Linked DNA regions of Homo sapiens: region 2 is linked to region 1. A link means that fine-mapping ties the variant in region 1 to the expression of a gene that starts in the linked region. Tissue or cell type: pancreas. Region 1 holds a variant in brackets; the other region holds the start of a gene. All regions are shown on one strand. Distances are from middle to middle.

The links. PIP is the estimated chance that this variant, and not a neighbour inherited with it, causes the effect.
Region 2: it holds the start of SPP1, and the variant in region 1 is fine-mapped to the expression of SPP1 in pancreas (GTEx, PIP above 0.99).

What each region holds. Positions count from the first base shown.
Region 1 is chr4:87,909,233-87,914,440 of GRCh38, reverse strand. No RefSeq gene overlaps it. Among named protein-coding and RNA genes, the nearest start is that of SPP1, 64 kb to the left of the region's middle. The variant C/T (reference allele first, on the strand shown) is at 2,794.
Region 2 is chr4:87,972,671-87,977,787 of GRCh38, reverse strand. It overlaps SPP1 (secreted phosphoprotein 1), which reads right to left and starts at 2,074. Exons shown (of 7, transcript NM_001040058.2): 1 at 1,988-2,074; 2 at 839-906; 3 at 691-729. The coding sequence starts at 892. LOC124900730 (a long non-coding RNA gene) reads left to right here and starts at 4,019. Exons shown (of 2, transcript XR_007058172.1): 1 at 4,019-4,149. RefSeq lists cis regulatory regions at 2,079-2,088, 2,123-2,132, 2,307-2,322, 2,760-2,768, 2,835-2,843 and 1 more, enhancers at 2,101-2,171, 1,934-2,433, 2,796-2,816 and promoters at 1,988-2,201, 1,991-3,078, 2,078-4,320.

The sequences.
Region 1 (5,208 bases):
TAAACAAGCTAGATACTAATTATTTATATTTAAGCTTTAAACTTCACATGGTTGCATACACTTTTTGTAGTAATCTGCCTACATTGTATTATAAAAATAGAAATTACACATTCAGTCAAATGGATGTTTTCCTTCTAGTGGAAGTGTTTCTAGAGTACATATTGTAATTTACTAAAATGTTTGACATCAAATTCCTTTTTCTGTCATTATAATTTCTGGCACATGCATTTCACATAAATGTTGGTCAAAGGATGTTTCTAGCACCCCTCCCACCCCAAAAGTTGCTGCTTCTCAATGTTTGTGAAACAAAATTATATGCCTTTCTTTTTCAGAGCTGGGTCATATGGGCTAGTGAGTTTACTCATTGGCATGTGATTTGGACTTTCATCAAACCAGCTAACCAAGATGAAAATGTCAACTTATTTGAATGAACACGTCTGTGTTACTTAAAAAAAAAAAAAAGCATGTTGGCATAACATACACAAACACGATATTGGATTTATTTTTATTCTTTGGACTTAAAAATGTAGTCGATTCTTATCATTACAAAAGAAAAGATGAATATTTTTAAAAAGAGTGAAATTATAGAAACATTCAAAAGAAAAAAAGTATCCAGAATATTACTATCAGACATAACCATTGTTATTTTGGAATATTATCTTTAAATCTTTTAACTAGACATATATTTTAATATTCCTTTTCATTTTTGAGATAATTATGTCCACATAGTTTTATATAATGCTTTTTAATTAACTTCATAATAAAATAGTTGTAAAGCATTAATTTGGCATCATCTGCAATTTGGATGAAATTATTCCATTGCATGACATTGTTACATTGTTTGTGAACATGAGAATTTATAAAATTATGGAATTATAATTTTAATTTTATAATTATAGGTCTAGAATAAAGTCTTAATTTTTATAATCAAATTATATGTTTGGCTTAAAATACATTATAATTTCACTTAATTTTGCAGATTACCATGAGTGGTATATAAAAATGGTAGCATTAGCTTTATTTGTGGGTAGGGAGTTGGCGGGGGGTGGTGCCTGTATGATAGAATACACACTACACAGTCAAGAGACTTGAGTGTCTAAAGCCTGGCTCCCTTCAAAAGCAATGAACTCTGTGATCTTGGCCAAGTGACCCTGAGTTTTAATTTCTTTAGCTGACAGTTAGGGGATGAAATTAGATCAGGGGTTCCCAAGCTATAGTCTGTGGATCAGTGTTCATTTTAGACAAAGTTCTATCCAGTCTGTGATAAAAGGGAAAACAAGTCAGTAAGTTTATCAGATAACAAAACTTATTTAAATATATTTTCTCTCTTTTTCACCCCCTAAGGTTATAGCCTTCTCAGGAACCTTAGATTATGACCCCTTCTGACTCTAAAATTCTGAAGCTATAAAGTAAGGTCTTAGGGACTCGAGAAGTAAAATATCAACTTAGTTAGAGGGTCAGAAAGACAAAAAATAAAAAGAAAACATAAAATATGTCATGAAGACAGAGAAAGAAGTTATTTGTGGTGTTTTAGCAATTTTGAATTTTTAACGTTATCTGGTGCTCTGTAAAGACAATAGAGGCAAGTTGACTGCAGTTATAGAATGCAACTTCCTGTTCTGCTGGTGAAACTTCAGCCTCAATTCCTGGCAGAGGTTAACATTTAACACGACCTTAGTTGGGCCTTCCAATTTTTCTCATGGTTAGATAGAGAGAGATTATTTAAATCAGCTTTACTAGTCTCATTTTACATTTTAATCTGATAAAACACGGTGACCAGAAAGCCAGATCCGATGGAAGGAGGAAGGGGACGTTTGCTTTTCCTTCTTATTTCCATTAGCTTTATGTCCTTATAGCTCTAGAGCACATAAAGCTAGGGAAATATGGGTTTTCTTACATAGCTGGTTTTAAAATACTGCTTTGCAACTCAGTATGTGTAAAAACCAGTCAGTAGTGCATTGATAGATGACTCTTTAGTGAGTTTGGAAGTGAAATTATAGCTGTGAGGACACATTTGCAGGCAAATGCTGGGGTGTGTTTAAAAAGCTGTATGCCCAGGGTTCAAATCAGGGCTCTGGTGGCTGCATTTGGGTAGATGAGTCATTCATCTGTCGTGACCTCTGGAGTTATCCTCATTCAGACAGTTTTCAGATTCATTCACGTAGACATGATATGTGTATGTCTTGAGGATAATAATCAAGAGCTTCCCCCTTTATCATGAATTACAGAAAGGATTTATAAACCTTAAGTAGAGTTTGAAATATTTTTCCAAACCAAAATAATATATTTACTTTTATCTACAACACTATGTTTTTGTAGTCTTCCAAATATTTCCCTCTAATTGCTTTTGTGCTGAGTTCTTCACTTTGATTGATGTGATTCAATTCTGTATGGAAGGCATAGCTCATTATTAAAGATCTGGAAATATACTGATAAAATATAATTGATTCTCATTTTAAAGTTTCACGTTTTATTTTCTCATTCATTAGGAGTAACTTCTTACACAGCTTCTGTTTTTGCAGATGCATAACATAAATAGGTTTCAATTTCCTAGTTTCTCTCTTTTTAAATGTGGGCGACAGAAGATGTGAATTTAATTCCTTCTGGTCCCTCATTCTGTCCAGGGTTTCCATTCATGTGGTTGTTCATAAGCATTATAGGCACACTTGGCTTTTGGGCATAAATTTATTCCCTACTCAACAATAGAAATGATTTTTCTCTGAACTGGGACTGTGGAATCGATGGCTCTGGTTAAATGATGTCTTTGTCTGAGTCTCACTTTTTAATGTTTAC[C/T]TCAGTTGCTTTTCCATTAACTCTAAGTTGCAGGGCACCTTTGTTCAAGGGCACTTTTGTAGAGGTAAACAAAGTTGGCTGGAGGGCACACAGACAGAAGTGATATCAAAGAGAGTCACATGTCTGGTGCTCCAGCTGCTGCAGCATTCAGGAGGCAAATTCCAAGAATGGGTCAATTTTATCAGTGTTTAAGAGAATAAAGAAATGTTAGAAGACTCCCAGAACCTGGCCCCACATCTATTTTCAATCTGCTTTGTTCGTGGCAAAGGGCATTCTAAAAAACAGGCAAGACAAGCGGTGAAGCAATCAGCTATAAATAGTAGAGCCTCTGTTTGTTTGAAGACAGTGTGTTCTGTCAAGGACTGCGAATATTTGGGTTCTTGCAAAGAACTGTGTCTAATTTTACTCAAATTTGCAAGTATAGATGAGAAAATCAAAGAAAAAAGTGCCCAAGAGAACATAGCACATCATACCGGTGTTTAATGTTCTGTTTCATTTTGGTTTTTTGTTCTAGTCACAGGGCGGAAAATTTCCACTTTGCCTAGATTGTCTGCTGTTGCAGGGCTGCTCCACAAACTCCATTCACTTTACGGAGCATCTGCCACATGCCAGAAACGAAGGCATGAGCATCAGAAACACAAAAGAAACATTCCCACCCATAGCCTTGCAGAGGAGAAAGGCAAGAGAACTGAGAATTCTAACTTACAATCCCACGTGCTGAGTGCTACAAAGAGGGTGATGTGGAAAGAAAGGTGAGGACTTAGGGTAACTAACTCATCCTGGTTTGTCTGGCAGTTTTCTGGTTTTAACACTGAAAGTCTTGTGTTCTGGGAACCCCCTTAGTCCCAAGCAAACCCAGACAGTTGTATTAGTGAGGTACTCAGTGGGAATTGCTGGAGGAAGTAATGGGATTGGGGAGGGAATAGGATGTTAGAAAATTTCCCAGAAAAGAAGAAATGTTTAAGCTGCATCTGAAAGGCTGAGGTAGAAAAAGATAGGTATGCTAGGCAGAATAATGGCTCCCGAAAATAAGCAGGGACTAATCATTAGAGCCTGTGAATGTTATCTTATATCGCAAAAGGGATTTTGCAAATGTGATTAAATTAAGATCTTGAGACAGAGTGTTCTGGATTATCTGGGTGGGCTTCTCTGTAAACATAAATGTTCTTATAAAAAGGAGATAATCCTGCTAACAGAGAAGCAGACAGTGGAAGAGGTGACAATGGAAGCAGGAGGTCAGAGGAAGGGGTCACCAGCCCTGGAATGCCCGTGGTCTCCAGAAGGTAGGAAAGGCAAGGAAATAGATTCTCCCCCAGAGCAGCCAGAAGGAGCTGGCCTTGGAACACCTTGACTTTAGCTGAGTGAAACTGATTTCTGGTTTCTGGCCTGTAGATGGTAAGAAAATAAGTGAGTTGCTGGGTTTTTTTTTTTTTTTTTTTTTTTTTTGAGATGGAGTCTCGCTCTGTCGCCCAGGCTGGAGTGCAGTGGTGTGATCTCCATTCTCCTGCCTCAGCCTCCTGAGTCGCTGGGACTACAGGCGCCCGCCACCACGCCCTGCTGATTTCTTGCACTTCTAGTAGAGACGGGGTTTCACCTTGTTAGCCAGGATGGTCTTGATCTTCTGACCTCATGATCCACCTGCCTCAGCCTCCCAAAGTGCTAGGATTACAGGCATGAGCCACAGCGCCTGGCCGTAAGTGCTGTTTTAAGCCACTAAGCTTGCAGTGATTTGTGTCAGCAGCAACAGGAGATGAATACAGGAGGGAATGTGGGGAAGGGCAATCTAGGCAGGAGGCTAGCATGACAAAACCTGTAAGAGGGCAAGGGATGTTCAGGATACCACAGGCAGTCAGGGTGTCTGCAGTGAAGCATGCATGGAAACACAGTAGGAGAGGAAGCTCCGGAGAAAGGTAGAGGCTGGGCTGTGAAAGAGTTTTTCCTCCATATTGAAGACAATGAAGACATACTCAATGCTTTAAAGCAGGGCCATAATGTGATTATATTTCATTTTGGAAAAGTCTTTTTGGTAACAGGATGGGAAAGTAGATAATTGTGAGGAGGAAGTAGATTCAAAGAAGCAGATAAATCCACTTAGATTTGATTGATTGGAATGATTACATTGTCCAGGCAAGAAAAGATAGGACTCCTGATGGCCAAAGGGGACGAAAAACGGGGCAGTTTCTAGAGATTCTTAGGAGGTGGATTATACAGGACTTGGTGTCCACCAAGTGAGGCAAAGAAAAGGTTGAAATTTTCATTTGGGTGCCTTGGAGGATGGGGCTGTCAATGCAGAGATGGGAATACAGGAGGAGCAGTGTGTATACAGGCTGTGGGTGGGAACGATGGGTTAGCTTTCAGGATTACAGAGGAATGAAATGCTTTCAAATGAGTGCATCTTTGTTCCATTCAAAAATT
Region 2 (5,117 bases), 63 kb before region 1:
CTTTATTCTGTTCAACTGGAATTGAACTCTGTGTGCCTTTTTGTCCAAGCTTCTGGGGACAATGCCCATTTGTTGTTTGGCTGGCACAGTTTCATCTGTTGTGGAGGGGTAGGTACATCTTTAGTGCTGGTCAAATAATTATAATAAAGAGTTTGGTTGGTCTTATGTTTGGTTAGAAAATGTGATCTAACATCAGCTGACAATCACAATAGATACAAACAGCACACATAGACTTTCTTTTCACAATGGGCTTCTCAGCTAATATCTCAGACAATATTGTGAATATTATGGTCATACAAACAGTTCTGACTAATATCCAATGTGAATTTTAAACTTAGCAATCCACTAAACAAAGCAAAAGCTGGAATTTTCTGCTTTTAGATCAGTATGTGGACTAATGGAAAAAAAGTCACACAACTTCATATAACTTATCTTACATGCGATAACTCATCATACATGCCTAGATATTATTATATTTAAAATATCTGGGTTGGTTTTATAAACTTATATTTATTAAAAACTATACTGTGCTTGGTACTGGCCTAGATTCATAGCAGGCAGTCAATCAATACTTGTAAACCAATGGATTTGACTGAGAAGATAAGTAATATCGCAGCAAATACGTTTCTTGCACCTCTCGCCATAATTGAGTAAATGATTTAACTATATAAAAACATAAAAGATGCTTACCTGCTTTTCCTCAGAACTTCCAGAATCAGCCTGTTTAACCTTAGAAACAGAAAAGATGAAGAAAGATTACAAGAATGTCCTCCTAGCACATGGAAGCACACAATTCAGTTATTTTCAGGAATTTTCTTTAAGATGCAACTGTACTCACTGGTATGGCACAGGTGATGCCTAGGAGGCAAAAGCAAATCACTGCAATTCTCATGGTAGTGAGTTTTCCTGCAAAATATTTCATAAGGAATAGCTGACATCTTCATAGGTTACAACAGTGATACCTTTTTATACTACCACATTACAAAATGATCACAAATAAAATATATTTTCTATAGAATCTTTTCTACTTCTTAGAGATGCCTTTTCTTTTTAGTATTATAGTCTTTCAAGTTAATATTTATATTGCCACCTATTATCCATCTTTCACTATTAGGCAAGGGAAAGGGAAATTTTGCAAGTCTGTATTTATTCAACTTTAAAATTTAGAGTTCCAGAAATTATACCATTACTACCTTATATATCTAGCTCTCTAAACCTACAAACAGATCAACAGTAACTTAATTATATTAATAAGCTAGTATGGGAATATTTTTTAGAGAAGAAAAAACTCACAGAAAAAAATGAAAAAAATTTGCTTTATCCATTTTTCCAACATGTACTTTAAATGTGACTTTTAGCTTAATTATCAAGTAGGTGCTACTTAGGTGAAATCAAACTATCTCTGAAATTTGTTATTTAAGTAAGATGTTCTAAAAATTTGAAATTCAAAGGAAAACATTGAAAATAGCCAACAGCTTTTCTATTTGTAATAATAAGCCTACACAGTGTCATACAGGTATCTTGGTGAATATTTTAACAGCTAAATTTAGCAGTGGCATATTCAGAAAGGGTTTTCTTCCCCTTAAAAGTGAGATACATCATTTAAAAAATAGCATTGTAATTGGTTTAATTAGCATAAAAGATCCCTTTTCTTTTAAATTCCTGCACAGTCACCCACTGAAAATTATATAGGTATAATTATTCCAAAGGGGAATTTAATTTTACTATTTTCTGATTAGCATCGGTGGTTTCCGTTCTTTTGAGGACCCAGTGGAAGTATTTTTAAGTTTTAAATTTGATTGGCATTCAAAATATCTAGACACCTTTGTTCCAGGAGACCTGCAATGTATCTAATCTGCTTATTAAAAAGGCTAGAAAATTTAAGTCTGTTTAACAGCATTACAATTAAAAATATTTTTCCTTAGAATTTGGACTTCCCCATGAAATTCAGCTGAATGCACAACCCAGTAGCAAACTGAAGCTGTACCTTGGTCGGCGTTTGGCTGAGAAGGCTGCAACTGGCCTGAGACGAGTCTGGTCCCGACGATGCTGTGCTCTGCCTCCTCCTGCTGCTGCTGACAACCAAGCCCTCCCAGAATTTAAATGCTGCTGCAGACATCCTCCACCAACACAGGGAGGCGGAGAGATTGTGTCATGAGGTTTTCTGCCACTGCCCAGCCCACCTGCTCCCACACTTCCCCCTCTGGTTTTGTGGTTAAAACAAAAAAAAACAAAAACGCACACACACAATCTACAGTTAAAACATTACTTATGTACAATATCATTAACTAGCTTTTTCATTTACGGGATGGGCATTCAGCATCCAGGAAGAGCACTTAGGGATCCCATGAAAAAGGGAGAAAGTAGGGAAAAACATTAATGTAAAATTAAATAGAATGGATTTTTGTTTCTTTCGGTTTAAGTAACATAAAGGTAATATCTGCAACCACTCTTGCCTGTATGATTGTACTTATTGAAGAGCCAGAAGGCTATTGTTCAAGCCTGCAAGGAGTTCAGAAAACTTGCCTCTGTCCTTTACTACTCAAGCTTAGCTTTGTGATTTCGAGTATGCAGTAGCTTGTTACTTAGACAAATGGCACTAGTGACATTAAAATATAAAATTCTATATGAAATAGAAGAATGGTAATTTATTCTAGATGTTGCAGAAGTAAAGCAGTTTCTGACTGAGAGCAGGATGACTGCTTGAGAGGGCTGCTTCAGGAGCCAGACCGTGGTTCTGAATTCCGCTGTGTCACTGCTGACCTGTGCAACCTTGGGCAAATCGCCCAGCCTACCTATCCTTGTTCCCTCATCCATGAAATGCAATACTATTACCTAGGTCATGGGGTTTTTGAGGGGTTTAAATGAATTAGTATGTTAAACTAGCAATGCTTAGCACATATTAGATGCAAATGCTCTGCGTATCTTAAGGACTATATGTGTGTTAACTATTATGAAATTTTTAAGAGGGGCAGGCAGTCACGAATTGTAATGTCCTTTAAAAGAACAGGTTATTAAAATGAGAGTAGACGTAAGATCTTTAAATTGTATGCATCAATAAGGAAATTTTGCACATTTCTAAAGGAACAGATTCGATTTTGGAATCATCTTTTTTTCTAGTTTTTCTCCCAAGGTATGTAAAGTAGGCCACTTAAAAAGAAAAACATTTTTAAAAATTTCTGTATTAAAAAACACTTTACTAGGTATTTAAAAGGTGTCTGAATGAAAGAAAATTACAGGGAAAGTCCGAATATTAGAGCAGAATTCAGGGATAGCAGAGCTCTGGGTCCTTTTAAAATATTTAATATTGCCTTGAGATTACTTATCTTCATTTGCTTTCTCAGTTGTGAAATGCAGATTGCACTATTTATTTACCTTACACCTTTATTGTTAAGACTTGTGTGTAATTGAGATGAAAAATAAATGGTCCTATTTATTATTAGGTTGCTGCAAAAGTAATTGTGGTTTTTATTAGTCCTAAAGTGTCAGCTTCCTTTTGCCAAATATTACTTTTAATATAAATATAGATTAAATAATGTCTTGCAGTGATAGTGTATAGCTAATTCATAGGTTTCATGAACATTTGGTAGGGGGAAATATGTCTCCCTTAAATTGGATGTATTCCAGATGAATTGATATGATTGGTTTGTAGGTAATAAGCACCCATTTTAATAAGTAAGATGACGACTATCTCTATAAAATAGAAAGCACACAGATTATAAAGTTGCAAAATAGACTTCTTTTTTCTGCTTCTAAAAACTATTTTTTTCCTTTAAACATACCCGCATAAGCGTGTCATGTTGTCAATTTAGTGGAGGGAAGTCTGAAAATTCTAAAAACAACAAAATTTCCACAGGATTTACTGTAGTTTACTCTGTGCCCACGGGAATGATTCAATATGAAGCTAGAATTAATTATAGGAATAGATTATGCTGGAGCCCAGCCATCTTGAGATGAACCATACGACCCTTTACAGGACTCTTCTGGTCATAGCTCCGCAGTGCCACACGATGGCAGCATTTCTGAAAAAAGATTTCAGACCACAATCTGGTTCTACCAATTTTCTTAATTCCAGCGGGATAGAACACTCCTGTATTTAATGACAGGACTATATACAGCTGTGGAGCTCTCCATTTCTTGGAATGCCAGGTGAGGAAATATTTCCCAACAATGACCCGCTATGCAATCAGGGACAGAGACCCAGAGAACCAAAGCGTTCTTGTTTTGCTCTGTTGTTGCCTTAGGCAATCCCAAGTTGACACTATTGTCTCCTTCCCGACTTCTACACTCATTCAAAAAGTTCCTAGTCCCAAGGCCTCTCTCAGAGAAAAGGCTTGTGAATTCACGGGTAAAGAATGTGTCTGGGATGCTTTGGAGTTGAGAAGATAAAGTGATTTATAATGGGAGGCAATTCTGTAAAGTAGGAAATGGATGCTGCGTCATTCTGACTATCGGGGAGGTCATGTTTTGGGATGTTTCTTGCTGTTTGCACTCAAACATGCTGCTGCTGGTTGTTTTTTCTGAGTAGGATTTTCTGTCAGAATTAACATGTTAAATGATTTAAATCACAGTGGCTCTATCTGTAATATTTCCAAAGTTTCCATTCTTGATTGGCTAATGATTGGTTGTTAGAATCAAAAGGTCAAAATGCACAAATTCCCTATAAATCTTGTGAGTGGAAAGTAAAAAAAGTTTAGTTGTCAAACTAGAATGCAAAGAGTAATTTGTGATCTTAAATTATACACACTAAGAGGACACATGGAAACAAATAAAGAGCCTTAAGGTCTTTTTCCTGAATTACATGAAAATTCCCATATAATAAAAAGTAAGTGTTCAATGTCACTACTTTGGTGGACAACTTTATTAAACTCACTTCCAGTTTATTTGAACATTTCTAATTATATTTTACTTAGTAAAGTGTAACCAACTATTTCAGTGTTTTCAGCTCCACAGGTAATTATTTTTTTCCCTTGAGTCAAGGTTCAGACATGACTCTGATATTTTGGTAACACCACTAATCTGTCATAAAGAAGTTTGGAATTAAAGCTAATCGGAAGCCTAGCACCATTCATCATATATAGACTGGGAAAAGGGGCATTATTTATCACAGGGTAGCA